Homo sapiens: one gene and its partners. The protein of the gene in region 1 interacts with the protein of each later gene in a pairwise test. Each region holds a gene or a part of one and is shown on either strand. Other genes may lie near its edges.

Region 1 (9,161 bases):
GAAAGTTTCTAATCCACCATCTTGAGTAAAAAAAGTAAAACTGACCAGGTGCGGTGGCTCACACCTGTAATCCCAGCGCTTTAGGAGGCCGAGGCGGGTGGATCACCTAAGGTCGGGAGTTCAAGACCAGTCTGACCAACACGGAGAAACCCCATCTCTACTAAAAATACAAAAAATTAGCCAGGCATGGTGGCACATGCCTGTAATCCCAGCTACTCGAGAGGCTGAGGCAGGAGAATTGCTCAAACCCGGGAGGCGGAGGTTGTGGTGAGCCAAGATCAGGCCATTGCACTCCAGCCTGGGCAACAAGAGTGAAACTGTCTCAAAAAAAAAAAGAAAAAAAAAAGTAAAACTATTTTTGCTTTGATTGCCTGTGCTTTTGAGGTCATACTCAAGAAATTTTTGCCCAGACCAATGTCCTGGAGTACTTCCTGGAATCTTGCCTGAGCCTTAAAGGTAAGAGAGATTCACTGCCCTCGCTCTAGCAGCTTAAGACTTTTAAAAGGGGAAGTGGGGACTTTGCCTATGTCACCCAGTAGCAGCCTATCACTTCATGTTTGCCTGTACCCCAAAGGTCTTCTTCAGGCCTCTTGCCTTGCTCCCAACCTTTTTTTTTTTTTTGACAGGATCTCACTCTGTTGCCCTGGCTGCAGTACAGTGGCACAATCTCAGCTCACTGCAACCTCTGCCTCCTGGACTCGAGCAATCTTCCTGCCTCAGCCTCCTGAGTAGCTGGGACTACAGGCGCACGCCACCAAATCCAGCTAATTTTTGTATTTTTAGTAGAGACAGGGTCTCACCATGTTGACCAGGCTGGCCTTGAACTCCTGGGCTCAAGCAATCCACCTGCCTCGGCCTCCCAAAGTGCTGGGATTATAGGAGTGAGGCACTGTGCCTGGCCTTAACTCTCAATCTTTCTTGTGAGCATTTGGTAGAGGCCCAACTTCTTATGTCTGTGGCTCTTAGATATTCTAAATAGACGTGCTAGCCCACACCTGGCCTTTAAGAATTTGCTAAAATTTTGTTTGATTTCTTCTTACCTAGCCACTTCTCTCTTGTGCTCTACTATAGATGAAATACTTCATTTCACAGATACAGACTCCTATCCCAGTTTACATGGTTGGCTTGAGTCCTCAGCTATCTAATGGGCTCAAGAAAAATTATTGTTCTAGATTATCTGGCATTTTCTTTGCTAAATTGGGAGCAACACTCTTACATAATTTTTCTACATTTCTTTTCCAATTATAAGTACAAATATAGGAATTTTGATTAGAATTTTACTAAAGTTAACATTAGAGATTGCGCAATATTATACAATTTGGTCTTTACATCCAGAAATACTGGTATTTTCACTCATTTTACAAAGAGCATCTTCCAGATTCTTTATGATATGGAGTCATGATTTGTTAATTGATTTTAACTTAAATTCCATATTGTTACAAACACAAATTGAAGTGGCTTCAATGTTATGGTATTAAAACATATTTAAAGTAAACAGGGAAACTGAAAAGTATTAGGTTGGAACCAAATAATCATAAAGGTACCTAGGATTGTAACAAAAATTAAACATTATATTTAGCTTTGAGATTCCTAGGAGAAAAGACAAAAAGGGAAACAGTACATTATGTAGTTCTCACAGTTTAATAGAAAGAATGCATTTTTTTGGTATGCAGTTCCTTTTAGAAATAACAAAATAGAAAATGAGTTCAACCATTGCTTTATAGAAAACAGGGAAATGTCCTTCAATTGAGCATTTCTTTTCCTCACATTAATAAAGTCTGCACACACCTCCTATGTTAACAGGAAATAGGAATTTCAGATAACAAATGTGAAAAGTTGAAATAATCCTGACAAATTTTTCAAATCAATTGTTGAAAATATTTATTTAGAAAAAAATATTTAGTTGGAAAACAGAAGAAACCAAAGAAAAACACACTTCATGTAAACAACAGAACACTATGCTAAGTTTAGTTCTACAATAAAAGCCACACAAATCTGTGTGTGGCTAACGATGAGGATACAGAGAAAAGAAAAAGAAAATTGAGAGAGAGGTAGAATATAACTCTTTGCTTACTGCAGGTCTTGTCTGGAGGAGAACCTCTGGAAAATAATAAGTTAGGATGGCCCTAGTCTACCAGCATGCCAGAGGCAGAACCAATATAATCTCCTAAAATATGAGATTTGTGTCAATTCTTAGGGTTACTCACTAAGGTGGTTTGGTTCCACCAATGAATAAATTTTCTAATTCTATACTAAGCTCATCCTTTGGAACATCAATCTCATCTCCAGATTCTTCTCCAAGCTTCTTCCACCAGGGTGCTTGTATGTGCTTCAGGGTTGTGAGATGGGCCTGCTTGGCCTTGGCTGCCACAGGCCTGGATCTACTTAGGAAGAGCTCAGGTTCTTTCCCTTCTGCCTCCTTCAGACTTGGTGCCTCTGTAGTGGACAGAAAATAAACAGATGAGCAGAAGAGTCCTATGCCAAGCAGGTAGGAACTTGGAAGCTACAGAGCTGTAACTCTGCAGGCAGAAACAGCATTCCAACTCTGAATGTACTACTTTTGAGAAAGGGTCTTGCTCTATTGCCTAAGCTGGAGTGCAGTAGCAAGATCACGGCTCACTGCAGCCTCAACCTCCTGGGCTCAAGTGATTCTCCCACCTCAGCTTCCTAAGTACCTGGGACTATGCCACCACACCCAGCTAATGTTTTTTCTTTTTTTGTAGAGATCTCACTATGCTGCCCAGGCTGGTCTCAAACTCCTGGACTCAAGCAATCCTTCTGCCTCAGCTTCCCTAAGTGTTGGGATTACAGCCATGTGTCAACATATTCAGCCCATTTCTGTTTTTTTTTGAGACAGAGTTTTGCTCTTGTTGCCCAGGCTGGAATGCCATGGCACGATCTCGGCTCACTGCAACCTCCGCCTCCTGGGTTCAAGCAATTCTCCTACCTCAGCCTCCTGAGTAGCTGGGATTACAGGCGTGCGCCACCATGCCCAGCTAATTTTGTATTTTTAGTAGAGACGGGCGTTTCACCATGTTGGTCAGGCTGGTCTCGAACTCCTGACCTCAGATGATCCACCTACCTCGGCCTCCCAAAATGTTGGGATTACAGGCGTGAGCCACCGTGCCCGGCCATTTCTGTGTTTAAAGGAATTTAAAAAGATGTAGATTTTTGTAAGATGGCTTATTTATTTATATTATTATTTTTTGAGACAAAGTCTCACTCTGTCACCTAGGCTGGAGTGCAGTAGCGCGATCTCTGCTTACTACAACCTCCGCCTCCCGGGTTCAAGCAATTCTCCTGCCTCAGCCTCCTGAGTAGCTGGGATTACAGGCACCCGCCACCATGCCCAGCTAATTTTTGTATTTTCAGTAGAGATGGGGTTTCACCATGTTGGTCATGCTGGTCTCGAACTCCTGACCTCGTGATCCGCCCACTTCGGCCTCCCAAAGTGCTGGGATTAGAGGCATGAGCCACCTCACCCAGCCAAGATGGTTTATTTAAAGAATAGAAACTTTAATAGAACCTCATCCTATAGATGAGAGGCTCAGTTTCAGCCATTTATCCAATTTAAGAATATAAAATTACCAAGTAGTGGCCATTAAATAGAAAACACTGGTCCTTTCTGTTTACATATACTAAAGAAATCCAAGATGCTGACTGAAACACAGGGGCTTCATGGATGGGATCTCTCATTAAATGGATCAGTGGTTATGATGAATTCATTTTTGTAAAGTGCTTCATTAAAAATTATAGGCTAGGCACGGTGGCTCACGCCTATAATCCCAGCACTTTGGGAGGCCGAGGTAGGCAGGTCACAAGGTCAAGAGATCGAGACCATCCTGGCCAACATGGTGAAACTCCGTCTCTACTAAAACTACAAAAATTAGCTGGGCGTGGTGGTGCGCACCTGTAGTCCCAGCTACTCGGGGAGGCTGAGGCAGGAGAATCGCTTGAACGTGGGAGGCGGAGGTTGCAGTGAGCCAAGATCACACCACTGCACTCCAGCCTGGCAACAGAGCAAGACTCCGTCTCAAAATAATAATAAAAAAAAATTTATAAAATGCTCTACAAGTGAATGGCACTGTAACTATTGTCATCATCTACTTACAAAATATGACCAAAAGCTTTTCAGATTACTTAGTAAAAGATGGCTAGTAGGGCTCAGCATCTGAAATTAATAACTTTGGGGTGACACATATGAATGATGGCAAGGCTTGGGGAAACAGGTAAGAAGGTGGTTATAAAATCCGCATCATTTGAAAACATTGTGTGCTGGTCTGATCTATGTAGAAATTTCCTGAGGTTAGGGGATGAGCTAAAGATGCTTAGTAATGGTTTCCTTCTAAAGGTTTTGGATGTCACAAACCTCGCATAGGTTGTTCCTTTTAGAGAACGAAAGTAAAATGAGCACATACTCATTAGCTGTTCAACGTTGGTGCTGATCTGTGCTATCAGAGCTTCTCTGTGCTGCTGGGCTCGCTCTTCTAGGGCCCTGCCCATAAAGTAGTGTTGCAGTCGTTCTTGAGCTTGGGCATGGAGCTCCCTACTGACCACATCTGACATTGGAGAGCCCTGGAAACACAGGACAGAAAAACCTGTCACAGAGAGGACATAGGTATCAAAGTACCCAACCACTTAGCAGAGGTTTTAGACTGCTTAGCTGTCTCTCATTTTATCAATTGAATCTTATGATTGATGTCTATCTTGTACTCTTATGCAAGTATTAATTAGTCTCTTAAAAGTTTTAGATAAAAATAATGGTGGAGAAGTTTTTTGTCTTTCTTTTTTGTATGTGCCTATACTTTACTTTCTCAGACACTGTGGAATTATGGGAGAAGAGATAAGCTTGAGAGATCACAGTGAAAAATTACAAATGGTTTCGTAAAGACACTGGCCTGGGGCCGGGTGTGGTGGCTCACGCCTGTAATCCCAGCACTCTGGGAGGCCAAGGTGGGTGGATCACCTGAGGTCAGGAGTTCAAGACCAGCCTGGCCAACACGGTGAAAACCCATCTCTACAAAAATTAGCCAGGCATGATGGTGGGTGCCTGTAATCCCAGCTACTCGGGAGGCTGAGGCGGGAGAATTACTTGAACCTGGGAGGCAGAGTTTGCAATGAGCCGAGATTGCGCCATTGCTCTCCAGCCTAGGCAACAGAGCAAGACTCTGCCTTAAAAAAAAAAAAAAAAAAAAAAAGACACTGGCCTATAACAGGTGTAACAACGCCAATCCCTTTGTTTCTTTGTTTTACTTCTTATCCCATTCTCACTCCCAAACTTATCCAAGCCATATGTTGTAACTGCTTCTGGATCCACAGAACAAGGGACAAAATCATCCAAAGGACCATGTTCTTTTGGCTAGTCAGCTAATTTAAGGGGAACTTAACTGATTAGTTTGGGCAAGGATGAAATAATCTTAACTTTGGAGGTGATAAAGAACCTGACACCACAGCTTTCTCAAATATTCCTGTTCCTATCCTGGATATGACCCTGTTCCACTAAAACCTTACTTCTCAGCCACAGGATCTTAAACAGCTGCACTAGAGTATGGCTAAAGAAGCACTTTAAAAAAAGAAAAACAGGAGCATGCATCAGAACTACATATAGTGTATTAGAAAAAGAGAGATCAAAGACCTAAACATAAGAGCTAAAACTGTAAAACTCCTAGAAGAAAACACAGGAAAAGCATCATGACATTGGTTTTGGTGATGATTTCTTCATACGACACCAAAGCACAGGAAAAAAAAAACAACAACAAAAACCAGACAAAATGAACTTCATCAAAATTAAAAACCTTGGTGCACCAAAGATCACTATCAAGAAAGTTAACTGGCAGTCCACAGAATGGCATAAAATGTTTGCAAATCATACATCTAAGGGATTAATCTCCATAATATATAAAGAACTCCCAAAACTCTACAAAAAACAACCTGATTAAAAAATGAACAAAATATAACCCTGTGGAAAAAAAAATAAACAAATGACTTGAACAGACATTTCTGCAAAAAAGATAAAGAAACGGCCAATAAACACATGAAAAGATGCTCAAAATCACTAATTAGGAAAGTGCAAGTTCAAACCATAAGATACAACTTCATATCTATTAGCTGCTATCAAAAACAATGACTACAACAAAAATAACTAATGTTGACAAGGATGTACAGAAACTGGAACCCTGTGTGTGACTGGTAGAAATGTAAAATGGTACAGCCACTATGGAAAACAGTATGGCAGTTCCTCAAAAAAATTTTTAAAAAGAATTAGCACACAATCTAGCATTTCCATTTCGGATACTCACCCAAAAGAATTGAAAGCAAGTACACACACAGATATTTGTACACACATGGTCACAGTAGCATTATTCACAATAGCCAAAGGGTGGACGGAACCCAAGTGTTCCTTGGATAAACAAAATGTAGTATATATAATGGAATATTATTCAGCCTTTAAAAGTAGAAAATTCCGACATATGCTAAAACATGAACCTTGAAGACATTATACTAACTGAAACAATGAAGTATGATTCTACTCATGAGGTACTTAGAGTAGGCAAATTCATGGAGACAGAAAGTAGAATGGTGGTTGCCAGAAGCTGGGTAGTGAGGGAATGGTGAGTTAGTGTTTAAAGGATGCAGAGTTTCCATTCTGCAAGATGAAAAAAGTTCTGAAGATGGGATGGTGGTGAAGCTTGCACAAACAATATGAATGTACTTAATGCTACCAAACTACATTTAAACATAGTTAAAATGGTAATTTTTATATTTTATCTATTTTACCACCCTGAAAATAAATAAATTTTAAAAATACAGATACATGAGGCCACACAAAACTTACTGTATCAGAATTTCTTGGGGTGTGTGGGGCTTGGGTATGTAATTTTTATAAAGGTGATTAAATTTGTAAATGATTAAAACTGTTAAAAGCAATATAGTCCTCTCTACAGAGCTTAGGAACTGATTATCTGTTTGTTGGAGAGGAGGCATGCTTCTGTCTGTCTTCATTCTACCTCTGCTCACAGGAAAAATCTTTCAGTTGTGGTTCTGCCCCTCTCTCCAACTCGGTTCTGGTGTTTGGCTAAGGGAGGAGTTGCTAATATGATTGATCAGCACTTAAGAGATTCACTGGCCATATACACCATGGAATACTATGCAGCCATAAAAAAGGATGAGTTTATGTCCTTTGCAGAGACATGGATGAAGCTGGAAACCATCATTCTCAGCAAACTAATACAAGAACAGAAAACCAAACACTGCATGTTCTCAACCATAAGTGGAAGTTGAACAATGAGAACACGTGGACGCAGGGAGGGGAACATCACACACTGGGGCCTATCGTGGGGTAGGGAACTAAGGGAGGGATAGCATTAGGAGAAAAACCTAATGTAGATGACAGGTTGATGGGTCCCAAACCACCCATGGCACATGTATACCTATGTAACAAACCTGCATGTTCTGCACATGTATCCCAGAACTTAAAGTATAATAATAATTAAAAAGAAGAGATTCATTGGCCATGTTTTATTGGTGGCCAGGCTGATTATTTTTAAAATCTCAGGACCCCTAAATTTTTTTTTAAGCATTTAGGTTAAAACAACCTTTTAAAAAATATAGCTTTATTGACGTAAAAATAACATACACTAAACAACAAATATTGAAAGGGTACAATTTGCTAAGCTTTGACATACACATACCTAGTTCATCACTACGTTTCCTTGTTTCCTTTTGTAAACCCTTATCCTCATCCTACCCATCCACCAACTACTTATCCCAAGCAACTACTTATCTATTTAATGTTACTATAGATTGGTTTATATTTTTAGAATTTACATAAAGGGAATCATAAAGAATGTATTCTACTCTGTCTGGCTTCTTTCATTTAGCATAATTATTTTGAGATTCATCCACGTTTTTTTTTCTTTTTCTTTAAAAATTTTTTTTGAAGACAGGGTCTCACTCTCTCACCCAGGATAGAGTGCAGTGGTGCCATCACTGCTCACTGCAGCCTCGAACTCCTGGGCTCAAGCGATCCACCTGCCTTGGCCTCTCAAAGTGCTGGAATTATGGGCGTGAGTCACCATGCCCGGCCAGAGATTCATCCATGTTGTTGAGAGTATCAATTTATTCCTTTATACATGCTGAATGGTACTCCATGGTTCTAGTTTTTGGCCATGAGCATTCATGTACAAGTGTCTATATGGACATATATTTCTTTTTCTCTGGGGTAAATATCTAGGAGTAGAATGGCTGAATCATATGATAGATGTATGTTTAATTTTTAAAGAAACTGTTGAACTGTCTTCCAAAGTAGTTGTACTCTTTTACATTCCCCTAAGTGGTGACTCTGCCACATGCTTGCTAACCTTTGGCATGTTCCATTTTTAAAATTCCAACAGGTATGAAGTATCTTACTGTCGGTTATTTTTTGAAAAATTTTAAATTTTTATTAAAAAAATTAGAGAGAGGGTCTCAATATGTTACCCAGGCTGGTCTCAAACTGTTGGGCTGAAGCAATCCTCCCACCTTGGCCTCCCAAAGTGTTAGGATTACAGGTATGAGCCACTGTGCTGGGCCCTTATTGTGGTTTTAATGTGCATTTTCCTTAGTGATTAATGATGCATTTTTCATGTGTTTATTTGTCATCTATCTTTTGGTGAAGTATCTGTTCAAAGCTTTTGTCCATTTAAAAAACAAAACAACTAGTTCATATGTTTTCTTACTGTTTAGTTTTGAGAGTTCTTTCTATATTATGGATATAGGACCTTTATCAAATATATGCTTGGCAATGATATTCTCCCAATCTGTGCCTTGTTTCTTTAATTCTGTTAATGGTGTCTTATGAAGAGAAGTTTTAAATTTCAATAAAGCCAATATATCAAATTTTCCTTTTTGAATCATGCTTCTGGTATTGTATTCAAGAAAGGTCACAATATTTCTCCATTGTTTCCTTTTAGAAGTTTTATAGTTTTAGGTTTTGCATTTAGGCCTATGATCTACTTTGAGTTACATTTTGCATATGAAGTGAAGTATGGCTTCAAGTTCAATTGTTTGACATGTGAATAGCCAATTGCTCCAGTTTTTCTGCATTAACTGTATATCTCTGTCAATAATTAGTTTGCTATACATGTGCTGTTAGGTGATTCTGGCACTGTGCACATGTCATT
Region 2 (3,179 bases), on another chromosome or scaffold:
ATTCTCCTGCCTCAGCCTCCCGAATAGCTAGGATTACAGGTGCATGCCACCACACCCGGCTAATTATTTGTATTTTTAGTAGAGACGAGGTTTCACCATGTTAGCCAGGATGGTCTCGATCTCCTGACCTCATGATCCGCCCGCCTTGGCCTCCCAAAGTGCTGGGATTACAGGTGTGAGCCACTGCCCCTGGCAAATTGTAGTAAATTATTTAAAAATAACAATATCTTTGGCTTGGGCATGGTGGCTCACACCTGTAATCCCAGCACTTTGGGAGGCTGAGGTGGGCAGATCACTTGAGGTCAGGAGTTCGAGACCAGCCTGAGCAACGTGGTGAAACCCTGTCTCTACTAATAATACAAAAAAAATTTAGCCGGGTATGGTGGTGCCTGCCTGTAATCCCAGCGACTCGGGAGGCTGAGGCAGGAGAATTGCTGGAACCTGGGAGGCAGAGGTTGCAGTGAGCCATGATCACACCACTGCACTCCAGCCTAGGTGACAGAGCGAGACTCTGTCTCAAAAAAAAAAAAAAAAAAAAAAAGCCAAAACAAGAAAAACAATATCTTCAGTTCATATTCTAAAAAGCAGAAGTGAATTTTACTTTATGAATAGAGCACTTTGCAAATAATTCTTTGTTGACCAAATATTTTAATGCCTGCATGAGTTAAGTAAAAGCTGTTCTATGAGAATTATAACATTGTTATTTGGAAGAATATATTAAGAGGAAGCAGACTTATGATTTGTCATTTAATAGATAATCCAATACTATAGGATAAAGGCAGCTTATTGGAGAAATGATTTTAAAAATATTTTCTTGCACAATTTACAAAATTTAGTTTAAAAAAATTGTCCAGTAATTTACCCCCACTTACTTGTGAAATTATGAGCTCTTTATTTCTTCTTCCCTTCAAATTTATCTTAACAACTTTTTCAAAACTTTTAACTTTAATTTTTATTGCCAACAAGTTGCTAGGATAGTACAAATAACTCCTAAATCTCTTCATCCAGAGTCATCAATTATTATCATTTTTCTACATTTCTTTCCCCTCTTTCTATATATACATATATGTAATTTTTTTCCTTTTTCTTAAACCACTTGAGACTTAATTATCAATATCATGCTTCTTTACCCCTAAAGTTCTTGTTTTTGTCACTCACATTACCTTCAGCTATGAGGCTTGTGGGCTTCTCTCGTGGTTTTATTCATTTTTTCACTTTTAACAGTTTTACTGAGGTATAACTGAGATACCATACAGTTTATTTTAGACTGCATTTTTATTCCTTCCTTCCTCTCACTGGCAGTTGCTGGTACAGTGCTGCACCTGGCTGAGTGAATGGTTTCTTTTGGAGCTGATAAAGCTGCCTTATGAAATCAGCTGACAGGTATATTATACCTACAGATGATGCCTTTTCTCTCAGAGCGCTTGGGTTGAGATTGACCCACTCCACAATTGCTAGTGGACATTCTGAGCAAAAGACCACATTTCTGTCCAATTTTGTGAATGTAACTATCAACTCATTTGAACTCTAAAACACTTAAGTTGTCATTTTACTATAGTGTAAAGATGACCGTAGATCTAAAAGATATTTTTTCTGAATTTTGACATTGAAGGAAGAAATCTATTTTTAGAAATCAAAAATGAAGAACTCACGCCCTTTAGGTTGCATACTTGGTTCTGGAGTGGCATGGAAGATGTTTGGAATGGCTGACCCTCTGTTGCTTTCACTTGGGTTGTTTGCATTTTTATTTTTTAAATATATTGCTTGGTGATCAGCGCATTTTTATTGACTTAATAGTTGTGTCTAAACTATTATAAAGCCAAATTGGGTAGTGTGTAACTCCTACTAATGTATTTCTCTCTTTTTTCCTCACAGGGATGAATTGTAAAAGCAACATCAGCTTGACCAGTATAAAATTACAGTGGATTGCTCATCTCAGTCCTCAAAGCTTTTTGAAAACCAACACCATCACAGCTTGTTTTGGACTTTGTTACACTGTTATTTTCAGCATGAAAATGTGTGTTTTTTTAGGGTTTCTGATTCTTCAAAGAGGCACAGAGCCAAATTGGTAGAGGAAGGATGCAAAGTATAAATTTGTGTAATATTACTTTAACATGCCCATATTTTACTTGGAAATATTAAAAGAAAGGGTTCTGTAAAATGGAAAACTTAGTTTGTGAATTGATTTTGAGGAGTGGTTTTTCTTTTCTTGGACACTTAATTCTGTTCTGATATTAATTTATCAGATTGCTTTTGTGCATTGGATAACACCACCATTCACAAGTTAAGATTCTTGGTATTTGGATATCTGTTAGATGCTACTAAGAAAATAGAGATGAGCTTTCTTTTTAAAGCTTTTGATGTGGTGTCATAGAATAGCATGTTGTAGATACAATCAGCTGCTTTGTTACCTTAAAACTAGGCATTTGTAAATATTAAACCATAAGATGGCAGGTGATGTCCTGTAAACACTCAGCTGTTCAGATTGGACATAACTGACTTAGTTCTTCCCTTCTCTCTCTCTCAAAATTATAGGAGACTTGTAGTTTAGTGTGGTTTTCTGTTTCTAATTTGCTGCTGATAATGTATATGAACTTAACATGCTGTGTAAGCTGTGTCCTAGTTCTTGAACAGTTTATGCAGTGCTGCTTTGCCAAATAAAGTTAAAAGTAAAAGAGGCATTGGTTGTTTTTGAATATAGAAGGAAGAACAGCAAGTCCACCAGATAGGGAGTGTTTACGATCATGGGAAAAAGACTGTTTCTCTGGTTGTTTCCTTTTGCGAAGTCTGAGTAAGTAATTAGCATTAATCCAACTGTACATTGTAGAATGTGACTACACTGCTCCAGGGCCAGGACCGTACTTCAGTCGTCATTTCTCTTTGACTCCCTAGCCCAGGGCTTGCCCTGTAGTAGCTATACAGTAAATGCTGGTGAGTGAGTGAGTGGTGAATGAATCGACTTAAAGTCAGGAAAGAACAGGATTGAGGGTGAACAGACCAAAACCCATCTCTCACCTATACAAAGATTTATTAATATAATGACTATAGCTGAATTTCTAAGAAGGCAGTAGCACTTTGGGATCTTATTTAAATGTTGTGATTTATAACTTTTATAAGAAGTAGTTCTGGAACTGAGGAAATATAAGCTCCAGAATGAGCAGAATCAGCACTCCCAGCAA
Region 3 (5,914 bases), on another chromosome or scaffold:
GTAAGAAAAAGTTGTGGGGTTTTTTTGGTCATTATCATTAAACAGCAATAGCTCATCTATCATCCACTAAACATTTACTGAGAAGCTTTATATGCCAGACAATGTTAGTATGTTTACTAATATATATATAAATTTTCTGACCATTTTTGCTTCTAGAAAATATTTATTGATGCTTTCTATGTGCTAAACACTGGTTGGTATTGAGAACATAAAAGGTAAATAAAACTAAGTCCATGTCACTTATGAATTTATGGTCTTGGTTAAGAAAAATATATAAAAAGTAATTATAAATATGTCATGTACATGTGATAATAGGTTATAGAGCTATGGATGTTTTGGTATGGCAGAGAGAGAAACAGATCATGAACACCCTGCATGCTATTTTAAGAAGGTGGGCTTTTCTAAGGGAAGCCACTGAAGATTGAAAAGCTGTATATTAAGATCTGTACTTTGAAAGACGATTCAAGTGAGAGCATTGAAGGTAGATAAGAGATGAGTAAGCTCGGAGATAGGGAGATCAGTAAGTAAGTTATTATAATAATCCCAGTGACAAGTGGTGAAACCCATGCAAATAGATAAGGGATCCACCCGAGAGATGTTAAGGATACGGAATTGATGGGGCTTGGTGACCAGTGAGATCTAGGGTGAGAGAAGACTTAAGGCTACCCCTAATAAATAATACTGTCATTCCATCTTTTTAATTATTTTTTTAATATTTTTAAGTTCCAGGATGCATGTGCAGAACATGCAGGTTTGTTACACAGGTATACATGTGCCATGGTGGTTTGCTGCACCTATCAACCCGTCATCTAGGTTTTAAGCCCTGCATGCATTAGGTATTTGTCCTAATGCTCTCCCTTCCCCTTGTCCCCCCCACCCCCCGACAGGCCCTGGTGTGTGATGATGTTCCTCTCCCTGTGTCCATGTGTCACTTCCATCTTTAATGGGTGACTGGGTGACATCCTAAGGAAAGAGTATAGAGGAAAAGAAATAGATTTTGAGGGTGCAAATAATTCTATTTTGTCCACCCAAAATGATTTGGTGGCCCAGGGGAAGATTACTAGTTGGAAATGTAGATTTAAGTGTTGGAGAGGGAATGAAGTTTTTGGCTTTGGATACATTGACTTATTTATGTCTCATCCGTAAAACTAAATACTTATATTGTCTCACTAGATTTTGTGGTTTAAGAACCAAATGGATAATATGTAGGTGTTTTGAAAATCGGTAGGAAGAGAAGAATTTAGAGGAAGACTAAGTGAGACTTACATGACTTCTTTTAAAACTATACAAAGTAGGAGTCAAAATAATGCAGATGTTTCAAATATGAGAAACTCATGGGAATACAAGTGCTGTTATATTTCAGATTGGAGCTCATCTGTTCTCAGAAGCTAAGCAGGATCAGGCCTGGTTAGTACTTGGATAGGAGAAAGCTCCTGGAAAAGTTAGCAAGACAACTAACTAGAAATCAGACTAAAAACTAAATGGAAATCAGATAAAGCCACCTAATGCATAGATACTTATACAAATAATTTTTGTCTTAATTTTTAAAGACTTATAAATGTTCCCAATATGAAGCTGTCGGCTTAGTTTTGTCCGTTTGATTGGGCAACATTTTTGTTCTGGCCCCAAGTCAAGGACAGATCTTCGTGATGAAACTCATTATACAATCCTATAAGGTCTAACCATGTTTTTTGGATTTCAGAGACATTCCTAAATAGGTATCTGTAATTCTGTCTACCTCTACGAAAATCATACGGTCAGACAAAATCTGAAACTTCCCAGGAGGTAGTTTCCTACACCAAAGCTATTCAGAATTTGTCCTAAATGGATAAGTTGATTTCGTAACTGCCTAAACAATTTAATTTACTATAAATTTTTCTTTTTAGGATAAACATTGAATGTGGCCTGCCAGATCCTTCTTAGGAAAATCTGCATTAGCCCAAAGTAGACTCTACCATTGGACAAAAATGTATCAAGTTTGCTTTCCCCTGTAACATTACAGAACTTTCCTGTATCTCCTCTTTATAAGGAATGGATGAATTAAGATAGAATTAGGTTTGAATGCAAGTACAGTCTCAAATTAACAGTGGCTTAGTAGATTACTGTTCTTTCACGTAGTTCAAGTCATCTTTTCTATATGGCCCAGAATTTTGATGTGATTATTTAAGAGTGAGCACTTTCCTAAGAAATACTAGTGGAATTCTCATGCTTCATATCATCTTTATATATATATATATGAAAATATCCTTTAGATATTTCTGATCTTCTTTATTCACTATTTTTTGTTTTACACTGTAAACTCTTCAGCATCTGGTATATGGTAAGCATTCAGTAAATATTTACTGTATTAGGCAGTCACTCCTTTGAATATTTTTTCCCTTGGTAATGAAGACACTTTCCTGAAAATATTTGTTTGCCTCCTTGTAATTTTAAAGGAATAATGACAGTAAAAAATACATAGATATGTGTACAGACATAAAATATATATTTTAAAAATATATATTATCTAGAATCTTTTGAACTTAGTGTCATAAATAGTTCATCAATTTTATCTAATTCATTGCATGAGTAGTTTTATTTGAAAACTTCGTATAAGATTAATGTACTTTGTGATAACAAAATTTGATCTGCATTTCCAGCAACGTGAACTAGAAGAGTGGCAGTTGCAGCAAAGGCGGCAAGGATTTATTAATGCAATTATTGAAGAAGAAAGGCTAAAACTTCTTAAAGAGCATGCTACAAACTTACTAGGCTATCTCCCTAAAGTAAGTGAGATTTATCTCAAGTTGTAATCTTCATGACCTGTAATAGTGAAAAAAACATGGTATTTGGATTTTAGAGTGCCTTGGTTTTGCTCACTTCTTGCTCGGTTATGAAGCAGCAATGGGATCCTCCTGTCCAGGCACTGAACCTCTCTGGGCCCATTTCAGTATATCTAAAATGATTGGTCTTAGCACATTATTAGATGTATGAGCTTGATTTACTGAATTTGTACCTTATTTATCGCCCAGGCTGGAGTGCAGTGGCAAGATGTCAGCTTACTGCAACCTCTGCCTCCCGGTGATTCTCCTGCTTCAGCCTCCTGAGTAGCTGGGATTACAGGCGTTTGCCACCACACCCAGCTAATTTTTGTATTTTTGGTAAGGACAGGATTTTGCTATGTTGGCCAGGCTGGTCTTGAACTCTTGGCCTCAGGTGATCCATCTGCCTCAGCCTCCCCAAGTGCTGGGTGGGCCACCACACCTGGCCTGAGTTTGTATTTTAGAGTTTCTTTTCTCCCCTTTTAGTGTAGGAAATCTAAAGCTACCCTAGAACAACTGTAGTACTTACATGCCAAAGATGAGAATGTGTATGAAAACATTGTCACTGGTAACACCAGTAATAGGCACATGGTTGAACTGAGCTTGAGACTACCCTAGAACTGTAGTACTTACATGCCAAAGATGAGAATGTGTATGAAAACATTGTCACTGGTAACACCAGTAATAGGCACATGGTTGAACTGAGCTTGAGACAGATCTGCTCTACAGTAGGAAGTTATAACTAGTTAAACTTGATTTTTAAAATTCCAGAAGATAGTGAATTTTAATGTATACCTGAGACACACTGTGACTTCAAATAAAATAGTAACTGGCTGGGCATGGCAACTCATGCCTATAATCCCAGCACTTTGGGAGGCTGAGGCAGGAGGATCACCTGAGCCCAGGAGTTCAAGACCAGCCTGGGAAACATGGGGAGATGCCATTGCTACAAAAAATAAAAAGTTAACTGGATGTGGTGATGCACGCCTGTAGTCCCAGATACTCTGGAGGCTGAGGTTGGAAGATTGCTTGAGCCTGGAAAGTTGAAGCTGCAGTGACCCATGATCTTGCCACTGCACTCCAGCCTGGGCAACAGAGTGAGACCCCGTCTTGTCTTAAAAAAGTAATAACAGTTTCATAGGCCACATAAACATCTAGACTCATATAAATAAGATCGCCATCTTTCAGCTATAGAAATGCCATTTCATATTTTATTCAGTAGAATCAAGTGCATATTTATTTTATTATATTCACTCTGGTGCTAAGGAAGGAAAAAGATATATAGGTAATTACTGCCTGGCCACAGGACTTGATAGTCTAATTGGTTAGAAAGGATTAAGGAATACAAAATGATGTATTAATGATAAAATCCATATGTAATTAATACATTTCATAAACTAAATTATAAATTGTAGGAATGTCTTTCTTTGGGATTTGATATTTTTGTAGAGGAAATAATTGTGGAGGCAGCAGGAGGGATTAATAAACTTGATATCCAAAAATGACCTTTATCCTTTAGGTCCTAATGGTGCCAAATGACTTCAGTTATCCCTAAAATTCTTTATTCTTTAGATTGCAATTTAAGTAAATATTTAATTTTGTTTTAAAGAGCCTTTTGCAGTATACTGTAGGGGAAAAGAAAAATAGAACAGTGAAGAATTCCAAAGGGTTTGCTTAAATGGCTTAACTCCAAACCTGGATTCTTTTCTGCAAGATTGACTGTTTGCTGATTAGCCATAGAACTGAGGCATGAAGAACTAATCCCATGCATGAATCTACTGAAGCTCACCATTATATCATATTATAGAGCTATTTAAAGAAAAGGGTAGGGTACAGTATAGATGAAGTGCCTTCCTATCTAGGTAATCCAAGCAGTAGAACTTGTAGAAGAGCTCAGATTCCTATGAAAAGCTCCTACACTAGAGCTGATAAATCAGAAAATTGGGTCAGTCTAGGAATATTCAATATATATGTAAAGTCTTATTTTTTGAAAAGTATTGATTTTTTTAAAGTTTCATTAATCTGTTGAATAGATTTCATTACCTTGGAGATAACTTTACTAATCTTATGTCTGTCAGTCTTAAAAGCATTTAGTGAAATATTCTGGTATTCAAAAGTAACCCACAAAGTATTTTTCTCGTAGGGAGTATTTAAAAAAGAGGATGATATTGATCTGCTTGGTGAAGAGTTCAGGAAAGTATATCAACAAAGGAGTGAAATTTGTGAAGAGAAATGATATCATCAAAATTGGGTAAAGCATAGATTTTTTGCATGTTACCACTAGATGTCAGCATAACTTTTGTTTTACAGTTCAGTGGCATTAGGTATCCATTGTCTGTTTGGATTTTGTAAATCATCACTGAATTTCATAACTTGTAAACAATTATCAGATACAAATTAATTTTAATCAAGCTGTTATTTTTGTACTGATAATTTCAAAATCCGATTTCTACAACACTACAGAGCACTGTTTGCATCCCCATCCTCAAGACAGTATATTTACCTTGACTAATACAGAACTCTACCCCAAAGTGAACTGCCTTCTGTCTGTGTTTACGAACTTTACTTACTTGATTTAGCCAGGGAAATAAATATTTGGAATTTTCTTTTAAAGCATCTTTTTTGGTCTACTGTAAGGGAGGAGAATTATAAATGAAAAGAGTCAAGAATTTTATTATCTGATGTGCTTAATTGTCACGCTAAGAACTTAAAAAACAACTCAAAAAGAGCTAATAGCTAATCTCCTAAATCTAAAAAGGGAATTCTTTGAAATTATTTTGCTTTCATAATCAAATATATTACTTATGAAGAATAAAAATAATTCAAACCACTACAATAAGTAAAATGGGTATCCATCACATACTGTCATAGAGACTAACTGAAGTAGATCACTTATGAATTTCCCCATTCAAGTGCTTTCATAAATTCCTCCTCAGTGAAAGATAGCATCTTGGCAGCTTCAATATGCATCTGTTAAAAAAAAAATCAATATTGTCTGATTTAGTATTAAGAGTAGGCCACCAAACAACAGGAAGTTTGTAAAAATGTGTGGATAATATATTGTCAGAATATAAGTTCTGTTGTAGGAATGTATACTCTTAATTCCAATAAGC

What was found.
Region 2: the proteins of IQCB1 (region 1) and PCMT1 interact in binary tests that used the Homo sapiens proteins (3 or more experiments, as listed by UniProt).
Region 3: the proteins of IQCB1 (region 1) and MNS1 interact in binary tests that used the Homo sapiens proteins (3 or more experiments, as listed by UniProt).

The regions. Positions count from the first base shown.
Region 1 is NC_000003.12:121,768,139-121,777,299, forward strand, and holds the end of IQCB1 (IQ calmodulin-binding motif-containing protein 1), read right to left. Parts: intron 4,576-9,161; coding exon 4,419-4,575; intron 2,437-4,418; coding exon 2,207-2,436; 3' UTR 1,623-2,206; downstream 1-1,622. UniProt on the Homo sapiens protein: Involved in ciliogenesis. The function in an early step in cilia formation depends on its association with CEP290/NPHP6.
Region 2 is NC_000006.12:149,808,741-149,811,919, forward strand, and holds the end of PCMT1 (protein-L-isoaspartate(D-aspartate) O-methyltransferase), read left to right. Parts: intron 1-1,875; coding exon of another isoform or gene 1,876-1,888; 3' UTR 1,889-2,679; downstream 2,680-3,179. UniProt on the Homo sapiens protein: Initiates the repair of damaged proteins by catalyzing methyl esterification of L-isoaspartyl and D-aspartyl residues produced by spontaneous isomerization and racemization of L-aspartyl and L-asparaginyl residues in aging peptides and proteins.
Region 3 is NC_000015.10:56,428,224-56,434,137, reverse strand, and holds the end of MNS1 (meiosis-specific nuclear structural protein 1), read left to right. Parts: exon of another isoform or gene 1-963; intron 964-2,639; coding exon 2,640-2,765; intron 2,766-3,983; exon of another isoform or gene 3,984-4,944; coding exon 4,945-5,037; 3' UTR 5,038-5,414; downstream 5,415-5,914. Other genes in the region: TEX9 (testis-expressed protein 9), read right to left, coding at 5,694-5,771. UniProt on the Homo sapiens protein: Microtubule inner protein (MIP) part of the dynein-decorated doublet microtubules (DMTs) in cilia axoneme, which is required for motile cilia beating.